Linked DNA regions of Homo sapiens: region 2 is linked to region 1. The links come from fine-mapping of genetic effects on gene expression. Tissue or cell type: whole blood. Region 1 holds a variant in brackets; the other region holds the start of a gene. All regions are shown on one strand. Distances are from middle to middle.

Evidence for each region. PIP is the estimated chance that this variant, and not a neighbour inherited with it, causes the effect.
Region 2: DDX18 starts here. The variant in region 1 is fine-mapped to the expression of DDX18 in whole blood (INTERVAL, PIP above 0.99).

What each region holds. Positions count from the first base shown.
Region 1 is chr2:118,223,424-118,231,531 of GRCh38, forward strand. It overlaps LOC105373578 (a long non-coding RNA gene), which reads right to left and starts at 3,165. Exons shown (of 5, transcript XR_923249.3): 1 at 357-3,165. RefSeq lists a silencer at 1,123-1,172. The variant T/TA (reference allele first, on the strand shown) is at 4,057.
Region 2 is chr2:117,811,182-117,819,289 of GRCh38, forward strand. It overlaps DDX18 (DEAD-box helicase 18), which reads left to right and starts at 3,510. Exons shown (of 14, transcript NM_006773.4): 1 at 3,510-3,681; 2 at 6,263-6,547. The coding sequence starts at 3,597. RefSeq lists enhancers at 3,272-3,566, 3,294-3,831, 3,377-3,506, 3,637-3,686, 3,707-3,756 and 1 more.

The DNA.
Region 1 (8,108 bases):
GTTAGGGGAAAAAAAGATAAAAAACAAGCTTGTAGGTTGCAGTTAAAATATTTTGCTTTATCACGCCTGGCGTGAAAAGAACCAAGAACACTGAACCCAGGGCAGCAGCGAATCCCACGCCCCACGCTCCCTCTTCCCAAACCTCAATATCGTTGCTTAAAATCTTCCGGGCTTATTGTGAAGCCAAGGGCGCTTGGCATGGGAAGAGAGCCGCTCGTGATTTATTTGGGAGAGGGATGGGGTTTTGGAAAGGAAATTGGGGGGTTTACAAGGAGGACGGGTGGGTTTTACTCAACAACTTATTCTTGGGCGTTTTCGTGGACTGGAGAGGAGTTTCGATCCCGTCTCGGGCTCACCTGGGAAGCCCCCTCCTGGCGCCCGCTTTGTTTGGCGTTCCTTTAAAGCCCGGTGTTGGCAGAGCGACCCACAATGAAACAAATTCTCATTTTATGACGTCTTTCCCCCCGTAGGAGTCCGAACAATGTCTGGGGGCTTGGCACGCATGAAGATAAAAGAATTTTATTTTAAATGCGATACATGTCAGGATTAGACAGCGTTTCCTTTCAGCTAAACTACAGAGCGAATCTTCATTTCCTGTTTCACTGCTTCCCCCGAAAGAAACTTTTCTTTTTCTTTTTCTTTTTCTTTTTTTTTCTTTTCTTTCTCTCCCCCAGCAGAGAGTCCGAGAGAAAAGTGCTGGGCACAGAGCTCCCCACGAGGTCCCCGGAAAGCAGACTTAGCTCCTGATCGTTGTCAATCTTTGGGCAACCCGGGGCCTCGCAACGGCTCGGGTTTAGTGTGATCTGGGGAGGCTGCAGCCCAGTTCCGGCTACCGTGGGCGCCTGAGCAGAGCCGGGGCGAGTTGTAAACCTCAGAGAAAGGCACTTGTCCCCAGCAAAACGCTTGGAGAGGACCGTGCACGCTGTGCTGCCCCCGCCCCGAGACGCGCCGGGCCGCCGGGTCACCGGTTTTCCGAAAGGGACCCGGCAGAGACAAAGTGCCTTCGCCGCTGCGATAGGTTGGTTTTACTTTGCAATAAACAGCCCCTAATGGGACCGGGCGCCGGGCGGAGAGCTCGGCCCGGGGCGCGGCCTTTGCCGCCTGGCTCTGCGGGCCGCCCCGCCGGGCGCCAGGTTTTGGGGGGTGGCCCGGCCCCGCGTCCGCCACTGCAGGCCGCTCTCCTCCTTCCCGCGCACACAGCGGAGAAAAAAGGACGCAAACAGCATTTTACACTTTTCCCACTTTAGCGGGAATCGGAGGAGCCGGGCGAGAAAGCCCGAAAAGGGAGGCGGTTATTTACGACCGGCGGGTTGGAGTCTGGCACCAGATGGTGGGGGTCTGTCAGGCCCGGCCGCCCCGCCCAGCGCCCCGCAAACAGCGCCCGGTTGGCAGCGTCGCCTGAGCAGCCCCCATCTTCGCTTCCAGCCCCTCCCGTATATTTTCTCCCGTCCAAGTCGATCAAAGACGGACTTTAAAAATTACTCGCAATTAGACCCAAAAAAGTCATTCGTGATCTTTGGGTATTAGCACTTAACGGCCAGTGGTCTCTCCTTTCCCTCTGGAGGAGGTCGGGGTGGGGGCGACTGGGACCAGGTGGAAGGTAGTGTAGGGTTAAGAAGCGTCAGACCTCGGAGAAGGGCCTCACTTCCTCTTCGTTTTGTCGCCCTTTGTGTTACATACGGGGCAAGCAAGGTCTGCCAATCACTACCATTTCTCTTTCTTGTTCTATAAAGACAGGGTCGTCACAGCAACAGGGACATGACAGGCTGGTATCTCTCTCGAGCTCCAGGGGGCCCCTAATAGGATTGAAGCGAAAGATCAAGCGAATGGTTTCCTATTTTAGGCCCGTAATAACTCCCAACTGCTTGCATATACATGGGCCTTACAGTATTGAGGCAACTTTTAATCCCAGAAAAGAGCAGCCTGTTTTCTAGCAGGGTCTATTTTTGAATACCCTGTGGGATCCTCCCTCTCTCACCATCCTCCATCCTCCCCTTGATTTTGGGGAGTCAGGGTAAGAAGGAATCCCCTCCTCTGATTTTACTTATCACTCCTTCCCCAGAAGCTGAAGGTGTCCTTTCTTTTCATTAATTCATTTTACCAGCTCAAAGTAAATACTCCATTTGGAGGAAACAAAGACACCCCTTTTTGGTATTCTGTTGAAGTCCCTGGGTGAGATCAGAAGTTTCCACATCTTTTGGAGAAACTGGCCTTGGATGTACTTTGGCCAGACCTCTCCCCCCACCTCTCCAACACACATACCTACAAAACCAAAAAGCAACCTAAGGAGGAGTGAAAAGGTTTCTCTCCCCCAGGCCATTTATGTTCAAAACGAAACGTGAGGCCACGTGGGTGTGGGGAGTGCGTGTGCTGGGTGGGTGTCCTTTATCTGTGTGTTTCTGGAGTAGAGAGAGGAAATAAATGAAATGCGTGCGGCAAGAGGAGCGGTTTGTTTTCACCCCCAAGACCTGGGAAAACCCATCAAAAGAGATTGACTTCAGAAAACCGAGAATGCCTGGGAAATCTGAATGCAAACAGCCCTGGAATAATCAGCACCACCAACATCTGTCACCACAGCTGTTTCTTTTCTGGTTGGTGAGAGAACCCGTCTCTCTTCTGTGGGTTGGCAATGAACTCCAAGTAAGGGGCCCATCGTCTTTCTCTTCCAAACAGAATCCTCCAGGTCTCTGTTTATTTAGCCTGCTTAAAAGTAGAACACAATACAAAACAAAACAAGCATAATATTGCCACCTTTTAGGTGAAAATAAGTAGCCTGGTAAAGTAGGTTAGGAAGAATTATTCTTGACCTGTGGTCACAGATGAGGAAACTGAGGCATGGGGACAGCCTTTGATTTTCAAATTGATATCCAGTAAAAAATCAGAATTAATAAATCCAATCCTCAGCTCTTGGAAGGCACTCCGTTAAAAACAAAAAAAGCCCCCCAAAACAGGTGAGTAGTTGTATTATGTTTTTTCTTTTCATTCAATTCACAAATAATTATTAAGCTTATGGAACGTGGAAAACAAAATGCTTTGTTTTGCTGGGGGGAGAGAATGAAATATCTTCCTTGCCCTAAGAGAATATGTCTTCTGGGAGGGGCACTGTGACAAGCAAAGACATAGATACCAGGAAGTGCATGGTTACAGCAATGTGGTGGCTTGATCTGAGGTTATGGGAGGGAAGCCTGACAAGGGAACAAGGACACGTGATGTCTGGCTGGAGTAAGGAGCAGAGAATTCATGAAAGAAGCAGTAGCATTTGCCTAGGAGTTGAAGATTGGTTGAGATTTCGATGAGTTGAGGTGGGAGAAAGGCATTCAAATGCAGGGAACAGCATGCAATCCGGAGGGAACAACAAATTAGTTTTTGTTTCAGAGGATGGAGGGAGATAGAGCAGGAATGAAAGAGGAGAGAGATAAAGGCAGGCTAAGACTTGCCTGTGGATGAGGGGAGCCCCAGAGTGACAGACCTAGGGGGCATTTGTAAAAGGTGAATCAGGGGCTGTGCCCAGGAAGGATTTGGGGTTGGGCAGAAGGCCTGGATTCTGAGATCCCAGTGGGAGGCTATGGTGGTCATAAGGAATGAGGGCTGCTACAGGCCAGTGTTATGGGGATGGAGAGAAAGAATGATTTGGTAAGATTTGATGGCCAAAGCACATGGAGCTCAAAGCAGAGAGGCAGGTCAGAGGTGACTGGGCTTTCAAACCTGGGTAACCAGAGAATAAAAGACAGCCTCGTTATATGCAAGAAATTAAAATAGCATTTAAGGCTGGGCGCGGTGGCTCATGCCTGTAATCCTAGCACTTTGGAAGGCCAAGGCAGGTGGATCACGAGGTCAGGAGATTGAGATCATCCTGGCTAACACAGCGAAACCTCATCTTTACCAAAAAAAAAATACAAAAAATTAGCCGGGTGTGGTGGCACGTTCCTGCAGTCCCAGCTACTCGGGAGGCTGAGGCAGAAGAATCACTTGAACCCAGGAGACGGAGGTTACAGTGAGCCAAGATTGCACCACTGCACACCAGCCTGGGCAACAGAGCAAGACTCCATCTCAATT[T/TA]AAAAAAAAAAAAAGCTTTTAAATCTACCATTACATTCATTGCAGCAGTGTTTAAAACATTGAACACTTCATTATAACAGAGAAACTCAGACACCAACATTGACGATCTTTCTTCCAGTGTTGAAGAGCTTTCTTTGTCAAAGCTGGGCACTTGGCCTCATGGTTGAGCTTCAGCCAGACTTAGAAAGCCAGCATCCCAGAGCTCAGTGACTTTGTAGGGTGGACGGAAAACCAGCTTGTAGAAGCTAAATTTTCCCCAAGACACATTACTCCTCCTTAGCATTCGTTACCATTTTTATACCATTATTGAGAAAGAAAATTAGAGAAAGATACCCCAGAGGCATTTTCTCCGCAACTGCCAGGAAGTGAGGAAATGTTCCAACGATGAAACTGATCTGGCATTTGTTTACTTTTCAGTTGCATCCAGTGTCTGCTTAAGAATGTTCTGATGGGCAGATACCTAGATTATCACACAGCAAATGCAAGCCAGAAAGGTGATAAATAGTGAAAAGGGCACCAGACTGGGCATGTGGGTTGGGAGTTCCCTTCCTGGTCCTGCCTGCTAGCTTGTGTGGCCTCATCCATGCAGCGGCACTCTCTGCCCTAGTTCCCTTCCTGAAAAACGAGGTGAATTGGGTGATTTTAAAGGTTCTTTCCAGCTCTGTGTGAGTGGATCAGTGATGTGCCTCTTGCTTTGGGTTTTCCCCAACTCTTTTTTCTCACATTCTGCATTCTGCTTTGCATGTGCAAACAGAAGGGATATTTATGTCAGATGATTTAGACCTTACTCTGGTTTTTAATAACTTTATTGACATTGAACTTTATTAATATTTTTAAAGCATCATTCTGTCTATTCTCCCTTGATCCACAAAACTGCCATGTAAAGTAAGTAAGCCAGGAGTTTTATTCCCAAATGTGCAGCTAATGATAACAATGATGATTTCTATTTACAGAGTGCCTGCCACATGTCAACATATGCCTTATATTGAATGTCTCACTTAATCACCACAATCTTCTAGGTACTGTTACTCCCACTTTACAGATAAGGAAGCTGAGACTTGTAGGGGCTGGGCCTCACCGAATGCCTCCAGCTTCCTGATGGCTGAGTCAGGATTTCAATCCTGGTCTATCAACTCCAACTCTGTGCTCTCTAAGACCTTTGGAGGTTATGTAAGGGTTGTCAACTGTCTTCCTCTACTACCCAATATTTTTTGTGGACATTTACCTCTGTACCATCAGAGAAAACCGTTGGCCAATGTGACCCTCCATTTGCTTTGTGGGCTTCCATGGCCTCCCCATGTGAAATATAAGGCCCAGATTTAAATCAGGCAAGCTGTTGACAAATGTCTATCAAGCACCCAGTATGTGTCTTACAGTCTACCACAGGCTTTGGAACCCTGAAGAAGTATTAGAAATGTCTCCTTCCATCCAGATTTTACAATCTGAGATGAAGAAACTAATTGAGCGAGTACAACATCAGTGAACGAGCAGTGTCCTGTGTTATCATGGAGACCACCAAACTTTATGGAAAGCTCATTCTGCTCCCACTGCAGCCTGGACTGTTTGGCTTAATTCTCATGAAAAGCTTATTTGATGGCTGCTACACAGTGAGAGCTTGTTGACAAAATCTACAACCAACATGCTGGTCCAAAGCAAAGACAGTTGGGGAACTTGTTCTTTGTGCAGTGGCGTCTTTGTCCTGGCCTTTGATTTGTTTCCTGGTATTTTAGCCCTGGAATTAATAGGTAAGCCAAACAGACCCAGTTCTGGCCATTATTGCATACTAATAATGGCTCAAAACAGTGGCTTGAAGCAACACACATTTATTCTGCTTTTGAATCCGAGGGTCAACTGGGCTCCGTGAGGCAGTTCTTGCTTAGGGTTCCTCAGACACTTGTAGTCAGGTGGTTCTGGGGCTGAGGTCATCTGGGAAGCTTCTTCACTCATGTGTCTGGAGCCTGGGCTGGGAAGACTCAGACAGCTGGGACCCCTTGGGCATGTCTCTCTAGGTGGCCTCCTCATGTGGTCTCTCTGTAAAACCATGAGAAGGCCCAGGAAGGCTCTCAGTGGCCTCCTTTGGGTCCTGTGCCCATTCTTGAACTCATCACTGTGGCCAGAGGGAGTTGTGCTTTGATTCTTATCTTGTTCTTACCTTGGGTCAACTCCACCCAAACTACTTAGACTGAATGTGGAAAAATGATGACTCCCAAGGGAAAATTGAAGTGAGGATGGATGATGGAAAATTAAGGCTAGCTGAGGTCCACTGGAGTTACTTGTTTCTTGCTGGTACTCATAGATGTTTGTTGATCATGGTATTGGATGGGGATAGGTCTCATACCCCTTTCCCTGAGATGCTGAGACCAGTGGCTTCTCTGCCTGGACTGGAAGCTACACATAGCTACACATAGCCTAGGGGTTGGAGCAGTGGGCAGCTTGGGGTTTTTATGAACCTACACTTCGGCTGAAGTTGCATTTTCCTACATATGTACCTTTGCTTATGCCATCTTCGCCACTCAGCATGGCCTTTCTACCCATGTCCACCATTTTAAATTAAATTGTCCAATTTGTAAGGCCGGATGTAAGAGCACACTAGCCAAAGATGAACTTTTTGTCCTCCGATCTCTGTGGCCTTGCTGTTCGAAGTGGAGCCCAAGCGCCAGCAGCATCAGCATCCCTTGGAAACTTGTCAGCAGTGTGGTCTTACTATGTACCTCAGAGCTACTGAATTAGAACCTGCATTTTAGCATGATTCCAGGTGTCATGTGGGCACAGCAAAGTCTGGGCAGCGCAATGCCAGAGCAGCAGTTCTCAGAGTGTGGTCCGGGAAAAGCTGAAGGTCTCTGAGACCCCTTCAGGGGGTTGGAAAGGTCAAACAATTTCCATACTAACATACTAATTTCTGCTGTGATAAATATAGCCGGGTGCAGTTATTCACACCTGTAAGCCCAGTACTTTGGGAGGCCGAACAAGTGGATCACTGGAATTTAGAAGTTCAAAACCAGCCTGTGCAAAATGGTGAAACTCTATCTCTACAAAAAAATTCAAAAATTAGCCGGACATGGGAGTGTATACCTGTAGTGCCAGCTACTTGGGAGGCTGAGGTGGGAGAATTGCTTGAGCTGGGAGGTTGAGGCTGCAGTGAGCCATGATTGTGCCACTGTACTCCAGCCTGGGAGACAGAGTGAGACCCTGTTTCAAAAAAATTAATGATAAATAAATAAATACAAATAGACATATGGCCAGGCGTGGTGGCTCACGCCTGTAATCCCAGCACTTTGGGGGGTCAAGGCTGGCAAATCACTTGAGCCCAGGAGTTCAAGACCAGCCTGGGCAACATGACGAAGCCCCGTCTCTACAAAGATTACAAAAATTAGCTAGGCATTGTGGCATGTGCCTGTAGTCCCAGTGACTTGGAAGGCTGAGGTGGGAGGATTGCTTGAGCCTGGGAGGAGGAGTCGCAGTGAGTCAAGATCGTGTCACTGCACTCCAGCCTGGGCGAAAGAGCAAGACCCTGTCTCAAACAAATAAACTCTCTCTCTCTCTATATATATATATATTTATATTTATGTATGTCTATATATTATGTATTTATATGTTTGCATATAAACATATAATATATATTATATATTTATATAAGTATATAGTTGATTTATATAATATATAACCTATTTTATATATAAACATTATATTTTATGTATTATGTTTATATATGTATATATGATATATTTATATATGTAAACATATAATTATATTGTATAATAAAGTATATTTATATATTTTTATATGTATTATAGGTAGACATAAACCACATAAGTTTTAAGAGTGTAAAGGGATTCTGAGACCAAAACATTTGAGAACTGCAGCTCTTGATCCTTCTGTCTCTGGCTAGGGAAAGTGTTGACCTTCCCTCCGCACTCTGGCTTCCGGCACTGAGCACAGCCCGCTAAGGGCATTGAAAGAGATCAACCTATACCTCCTTAGCCTTGAGGACAAGGAGAGGCTCCAGGGGTCACCCCCACCCACCCTGGGCATCAGGCTCTATGTAATCCACT
Region 2 (8,108 bases), 410 kb before region 1:
TTCCTGTCTTGTTTACTGCTGATCCCTGAGGCCTAAAACAGTACCTGGAATGGATAGATGGTATTTTTTTAAATTAATAAATGAATAAACTTCTTGACAGAAAAGTTTCTGTTATATGTTTCTGTATCCTCTCCAGCTCCTAGGACCACTGCAATAATGACTTGTCATGAATTGTGGTGATGCTCTTTAAAATAATCTCTCACTCTTATGTCCATCAGTTCACTGAAGAAAACCTTTCTTAAGTACCAGCCATCTGCTTTCTACAATGTAGAAATACACAGAACCAGATGCTGGTCCAGGAAAGTCAGGTAATGTGAAGGAGGCAACATCATGCTTATTTACAATAACATAGCACTTTTTAAGTTCCAATACACAACAGAGTGGTTAACCTTATAGAAAATAGCATTTGAAAGTTCCTAGAAAATCACTTCAAGAGTCCTAATGCAGTGATCCGAGAGGATGAGTCAGTTATTTCTGGCTCACAATTCTATGATGTTGGTGAAATAGATTGATTTCTTTTCCCAGTGAAGTGGGACGTTTTTAATTTGAATGACAAACTACACAAATCTGCGTTTTATTTTACAAACACTTGTCTCAGGTTTAAGGATCTCAAGTGAAAACTGAAAAACAAAACAGCATGAATAAGACCTGTTCTATGTTAAACTTAATTATTTTTAGTCAGGAGGTAAAAGACAGAAACTCCTGGCCAGGTGCGGTGGCTCATGCCTGTAATCTCAGCACTTTAGGAGGCTGAGGCGGATGGATCACCTGAGGTCAGGAGTTCGAGACCAGCGTGAATAACATGGAGAAACCCTGTCTCTACTAAAAATGCAAAATTATCTGGGTATAGTGGTGCATGCTTGTAATCCCAGCTACTTGGGAGGCTGAGGCAGGAGAATCACTTGAACCCAGAGGCGGAGGTTGCGGTAAGCCAAGTTCGCGCCATTGAACTCCAGCCTGGGCAACAAGAGCAAAACTCTGTCTCAAAACACACAAACAAACCAACAAAAAAAAGACAGCAACTCCCTTCCTGCTTCTGCCTGCTGCTGGCTCAGTCCCTATGCATAATGAATATTGAATGACAGACTCCATCCCCAGACCCCTTCCCAAGGCTAGGATGTTGCTCCTGTGATGTGCTTCCTTTTCACTGCATTCATCATAGTTTACCATAATCGTTTAATTTTCTGTCTTCCTTGTAAGCTCTGTAAGCTCCACCTAGGCGAGCCAGGTCTATCTTGTCCACCATTTTATACCCAGGATTTGGCACATGCCTACCACACACTCTTAGCACAAAAATGCTCAAAAAATAGTTGCATAATGACTATATTATGCGATTGTTTTATGGCGAATGACCATATTCTGAAGAGAGAGACCTCTGTGATGGAGAGCCCAAGCAAGAAGTTTTAAAGACTGAAACGCATTCTGAATAGATACTGGGATAGGCTCCAGCTGTGAAGAACAACAGGCTTTTCAGAAGCACGTGATTGTTACCTCATCCTCACAGGTAATTTTTGAGTAGCTAACCCAATGACATTGTTTTCTTTGCTAGAGTAACTGATGATGTGGCCTTGGAAATTCACTCTGTTAAAAATAACTCTCAACCCTAATTTTGAGAGTTGATTTGAAGTTATAATTTCTCATTCTTCTTCTAAAAATCCAGAAGAATTGGCATCAGTAGCTTTATCTATGTTTCTTAAAAGGTTATCAATCCCTAACGTTAAGCATTTCCATGCACCTGAAAGGATCGGCTTCTCTGATCTAAATGTCTTAAACACCTCGTAAATGTGGGTTTTTTTGGTTTTGAGGAAATGACTGCCAATCTTCACTACTAGCTAGAAAAAGTCACACTCTAGAAAAAAGGGAGTACCTTTCCATTACTACTACCAAAACATAGCCCCACAAATTTAAGTTACAACATAAAAGAAATAACAAATTTTGAGCACTTTCTATATATACTTCAGTTGTATCTATTTCAAAGTCACAGACCCAAAACTCACACATGTAATCAGGTAAATATATATGTATGTACATAGAGCTATAGAAATAGATACATATGTGTATATGCATATATATACTGATATATGCATAAATTTAAACTGGCATATATATTTACACTGAGATAAATGTTTGCGTGTGTGTGTGCGCTCTTACATTTCTGAATCATTCTTCAGCCTGCCTGATCATTAACAAATTAATCTAAGCACATTATTATTTGTTTGTCTTAGTTTTCCAGTCCAATCCAATGTGATTTCGAAGTCAATTCCTTCACATTCTGTTTAAACTCCCTCCCAAGTTTTCTCCCTCTCTGTTCCTCACTATGATCAGGTCTAATCTCCAGGGTCTCATGTTCTGCCCCTCCAAGTAAACAAATTAATCCAGGTTTCATGGACTCTTCCAGTTGTTCAGCTCAAATTGATTACTGTTAAGGGGAATTTGAGGGCATTGGGCCAATTTTTAAAGACAAATATGAATTTTTATGGAAATCTCCAAGTATTTTAATGTTGATAACAATTTTTTTAAAAATTAAATACTATATGCATACCCCTGTCTTCCTCCCCATCCCAAAAAAGAGATGACTATTAGCTAGCCACATTGCAATTTCTGTCCTGGACTGCTGAAGGGTCCTTGGGTATACTTAAGGAATATATAAACCTCTTTTTCAAACTGCAGTCAACCTATTATTAATGTAGTAAAGTTAATTTAAATTCATAGGAATCAGTATTTTTAGTAAGCTAAAAAGAATAATTTAGGATGGAATGAATGGAATTGAAGGAAAAAGAGTGAAAAGCAAGAATATTATTTTGAGAAATGTTATATTTATGTGTGTATGTGTACCAAGTGACACAGAAATTGTATTTCTGAGGAGAGTGGCCAAACAAGTTTGGAAATGCATATATATAATTTAGTTCTATTCAGTTTCCCAAATACAGTTGTCCCTCAGTATCCACAAGGGATTGAGTCCAGGACCCTCTATGGGTACCAATATCTTAGGATACTCAAAACCCTTATATACAATAGTGTAATATTTGCATTTATTTTACACACAACATCCTGTATACTTTAAATCATTTCTAAATGACTTATAATACCTTATACAACCTAAATGCTATGAAAGTAGTTATCACACTGTATTATTTTTAATTGTTTTTTTTTTAATGTTTTCAATGGGGGAGTTGGTTGAATCCACAGACAGGGAATTCAGGTACAGGGAGGGCCAACTCTAGTTCTGCACCCACAGAGGATAGGAACATAAAAATGCGGACTCCCTAAGGCCTCCTTCCCCTCCACGTTCTTTCTTCAGTCTTCCTCTAGGGGGAGCTCAAGTTAGCTTTAGCACAGTGTGAAGCCAGTGCAGCGTCTCGCTTCCACTTCTCCAGGGGGCGCTGCAAAGATTTTGGTCGCCAAAGATATCACGGTGCGCGCGTCTGGAAGCATTTCCGCTCTGGAGCATTTTCGTTCCGCCGGGTGCCAGCGTTCCTGTGACGCGTTTCCTGTTGGCCGAGCTGCGCACGTGCGGCCGGAAGGGAAGTAACGTCAGCCTGAGAACTGAGTAGCTGTACTGTGTGGCGCCTTATTCTAGGCACTTGTTGGGCAGAATGTCACACCTGCCGATGAAACTCCTGCGTAAGAAGATCGAGAAGCGGAACCTCAAATTGCGGCAGCGGAACCTAAAGTTTCAGGGTGAGATGCGTTGACTCGCGGTGGCTCAGAAGACCCACGCGCGAGCCCTGGCGCGTTCGGGCGGCCGGGGGCCCAGCTGCTCTGTGTGACGGAGGCAGCTTCCCCTGCAGCGTGTGTGATTGGGGAGAGTGAAAAGGCAGCTTCCACTCGGGACCCGCGCTGCTGCCCACTCGTCGCGTGGCTCCAGCGCTGCTCCTGACCTTTCTGAGCAATCAGTGTCTTCTTACAACGTTAGAGCGGGAGGACTCCCCGTTCACTTCTAGGCTTACGACTAACCCTGCCTTTTGCATTTCCACCTTAGCTTTTGGTTCCCTCACCACCTGCAAGTCGCACCTCACCTCATCCCTCATTTCCGGTTATGCTGCATGAAACGTCTCATTTCCACCCACTTTTCACATCTATTTAATTCCCGTATTTCTTTCCCCAAAAGCCCGTCTGGCTGTTTCCACAGAGCTTCTTTGATACTATTGCCTTCCTCTACCCACTTCCACACGTTCTCGTAGCACTTTCTCACCAGAGCTTCTACGTATTTGTGTCCCGCACAGTGACCTAAATGAAAAGGATTTTATCTGAATGTCACCTTTCTTACCTACCTCATTTGCAGTCCCAGTGTCCTGACAGTGGGGCCACAGATCTTGAAGTAATTGTGTTAACCTGTTGTCCAGGTTAAGATACAAACTCCCCGAGGGAAAGTTTGGAGGCACAGTGCCTTGCCCCAGTTGGTTTTCAACAGACATTAATTGAAAAAAAATTCTGCAGGAGGCAATAGGTTTGTGAATTTTAGGAATATGTTTTGAAATACTCTTGTATTTCTAATTCCTATAGAATAATACTACAGCATTACTACTTTTCAGCGCATATGTAAGTAAATTTGAACAAAAGATGGTGTTTTATCTTTTTCAGTAAACAAACAGGGAACCTTTGGTAAGGACATTCTCAGGTACAGTCATGCATCGCATAACAGGAGGGGGGATACATTGTGAGAAATGTGTCATTAGGGGCTTTTGTCGTTTTGCGAACTTTATCTAGTTACACAAACCTAAATCTACTACACACCCAGGCTACATGATATAGCCTGTTGCTCGTAAGCTGTCATCCTGTACAGCATGTTACTGTACTATACTCAGAGAATTGTAACACAATGGTAAGTGTATGTATGGCTAAATATATCTAAACATAGAAAAGGTACAGTAAAAAGACTATGACATGAGAGATTTAGAAAATGGTACCTCTGTATACAGTACTTACCATGAATGGAGTTTGCAGGACTGGAAGTTACCCTGAGCGAGTCAGTGAGCGGTGAGTGAATGTGAAGGCCTAGAACATTACTGTACACTATAGACTTTATAAACACTGTACACTTGGGCTACACTGTTGAGTTTTTTAATACTTTTATTCTTAAATTAACCTTAGCCTGCTGTAACTTTTACATTATAAACTTGTTAAATTTTAACCTTTTGACTTTAATAACACTTAGCTTACAACACAAGCACATTGTACATACAGCTGTACAAAAAGTTTCCTTTTGTCCTTATTCTATGTGATTTTTATTTTATTTTTTTTTCTTTTTAAGCTTTTTGTTAAAAATGTAAAGACACAGACACATTCAGTTTCACTGTCTTCCGCTTCCACATCTTGTCCCACTGGAAGATCTTCAGGGGCAACAATAGGCATGGAGCTGTCATCTCCTATGATAACAGTGCCTTCTAAAATACCTCTCTCCCTGAGGCTCTTTTACAGTCGACTCATTTTTTTTTAATAAGTAAAAGGAGTAAACTCTAAAATGATGATCAAAAGTATAGTAAACACATAAACAAGTAACATAGTTTATTATCACGTATTATGTATTGTACATAATTATGTGTGCTGTACTTTATACGACTGGCATTACAGTAGATTTGTTTATACTAGCATCACTACAAACATGAGTAATATGTTGCACTACGACATTGCAGTTACTGATGGCACTAGGTGATAGGAATTTTTTAGCTCCGTTATAATCTTATGGAGCCACTGTATATGTTGTCCTTAATTCACAGAAATGTCATTGTGCACGCATTACTGTATTTGCATATGATAAATATTGGAGCAAATAAGTGGTCTTATCAACTGAATTTTCAACTCACTGCAGTCTAGAAGAGTTGGGGTTGAATGTTTTGAAGTGGTATGAAAAATAGTACTTGTGTGAATGAGTTGTAAATGTCTTTTTCAATATATCAGTTAATCATATGTTTATCAAATACTTATGTTTATTCTGTAACTGCCATTATCTGACCTCATCTGTTTAAATATTTGACCTCATTGAAGTTTTCCTGTCCTAGACTCCTTAAAGTCAGATGTACGGTCTTTTGCAGTTAAGAAATCAATATAGCTTTCCCTTTTCCAGTATTTTTTCTTTAAGATAACTTACTTTCCCTATAAGGGAACACCATAAAACTATAAGTTGTTTTAATTACATGAAAGAGAAGAAAATCTAAATAATTTGTGTCAGGAAGCCATGGAAGTTCTCATTTGGGATTTCAGTGTTTCTAAGTAAACTTCTCCTTCTTTGTCACAGTATATGTTCTGTTTATTTAAACAGGGGCCTCAAATCTGACCCTATCGGAAACTCAAAATGGAGATGTATCTGAAGAAACAATGGGAAGTAGAAAGGTTAAAAAATCAAAACAAAAGCCCATGAATGTGGGCTTATCAGAAACTCAAAATGGAGGCATGTCTCAAGAAGCAGTGGGAAATATAAAAGTTACAAAGTCTCCCCAGAAATCCACTGTATTAACCAATGGAGAAGCAGCAATGCAGTCTTCCAATTCAGAATCAAAAAAGAAAAAGAAGAAAAAGAGAAAAATGGTGAATGATGCTGAGCCTGGTAGGTATTTATTATCTTTGAACTTCAGCCATTTAGTTTTTCACAGACGGTTATTGTTCCTCTTTCTATTACTATTGTGTGCACATGACATGAGAATTCCCTGTACTCACCAGTATGTTAGAGATTAGCCTGGTAGCTAATGGAAACATTTTATTGGCAGAAGCGGGGAGTCCATTTCAACTTTTCTCAAAATATTGAGGAATATATTTTTAATTTCACTAACCTTGAAGAAAACCTCTCTCAGAAAAGACTCTCCTTAGAATTCTAGAAATTTTCTCTTCTTTTTAAGTTACCTTTTTTCCTGCTTGATTCTTCCCATTTTCCTTCCATAAATTCCTCCCTTTGAAAGGAATATTAGTTACAAAGTATATAAAGTAGGAAACTTCTGAATAAATGGAACATTAATTTCCAAGTGCTAAGAATGGCAGGAGGAAAAGGAAGGAATGTTTTTTGAAGATGATGGAATTTCAGTAAGCTCGGATGAAAGAATGGACATTATAATTGAGATTTGTATAAGCAGAGATATCAAGGTAGGATAAGATAGGGGTCAGCAAACTATCCCTCCTTCTACCTGTTTTTGTAAATAAAGTTTTACTGGGTCATAGCAATGCCTATTTGGTTGTGTTTATGGCAACAGAGATCATATGACCTGCAAAGCCTAAACTATTTACTATCTGGCCCTTTGCGGAAAGTTTGCCAGCCCCTGAGTTGGAACATCCTATTCATGTATTTTACCTGAAATAAGGGTTTTATTTAGAAAGGGACTTTGAACTTTTCCAAACATGCATTACTGTCTTCATGATGCCTACACACAGAAGTCATTGTAATCCTGTTCTAAAATTATTGCCTTCACAATTCTTGTTTTGAGTATGCCCCAGGAAGTGGTATTATTTCTGCTCCCAAGCATTGAATCACAATGCTGGGCGTTTTAACCTTATGGGTTTTTTGTTTGTTTGTTTGTTTGTTTGTTTTATTATGAGATGGGGTCTCACTGTGTTGTCCAAGCTGGTCTTGAACTCCTGGGCTCAAGTGATCCTCCCACCTCGGCTTCCCAAAGTGCTGGGATTACAGGCAGAAGCCACCACACCCAACCACCTTATGGGTACATTTTAGGAACTATTCCAGGGAAAACAAAATAAGCCATGGAGACCAGCTGAAGATATCTGTGGCTTTTGAACATGTAGGTCCTACAAAGTTGACTCTTTCCTGGAAGGGTGGCCGTCAGGTACAGGGAGGAGACCAGTACTGAGCTACAGAGAGTCCTGGGTTGTGGTCTAAGTTCTTTTCAAACATCACTAATTGCCATATAGTTTTATATAAACACAGCATGTGGTTAATCCATTTGACCCAGAGTCGAACATTGAAAAGAGAAGTGAGAGGTAGGACTGAAAAGGTAGTTGGGGCCACATGAAAGTTGTGAATGTAGAAATGAGGGTGGGAAGAAGCCCTGCCTTTCCTCCCACCCTCATCCCTGATAGCCAAGGCACAGTCCAGTGTATGTCAGCCAGGCAAGTGGGTTGTTGCCCTTCCTTTACAGTCTATCTCTAGTAACATGAAGAGC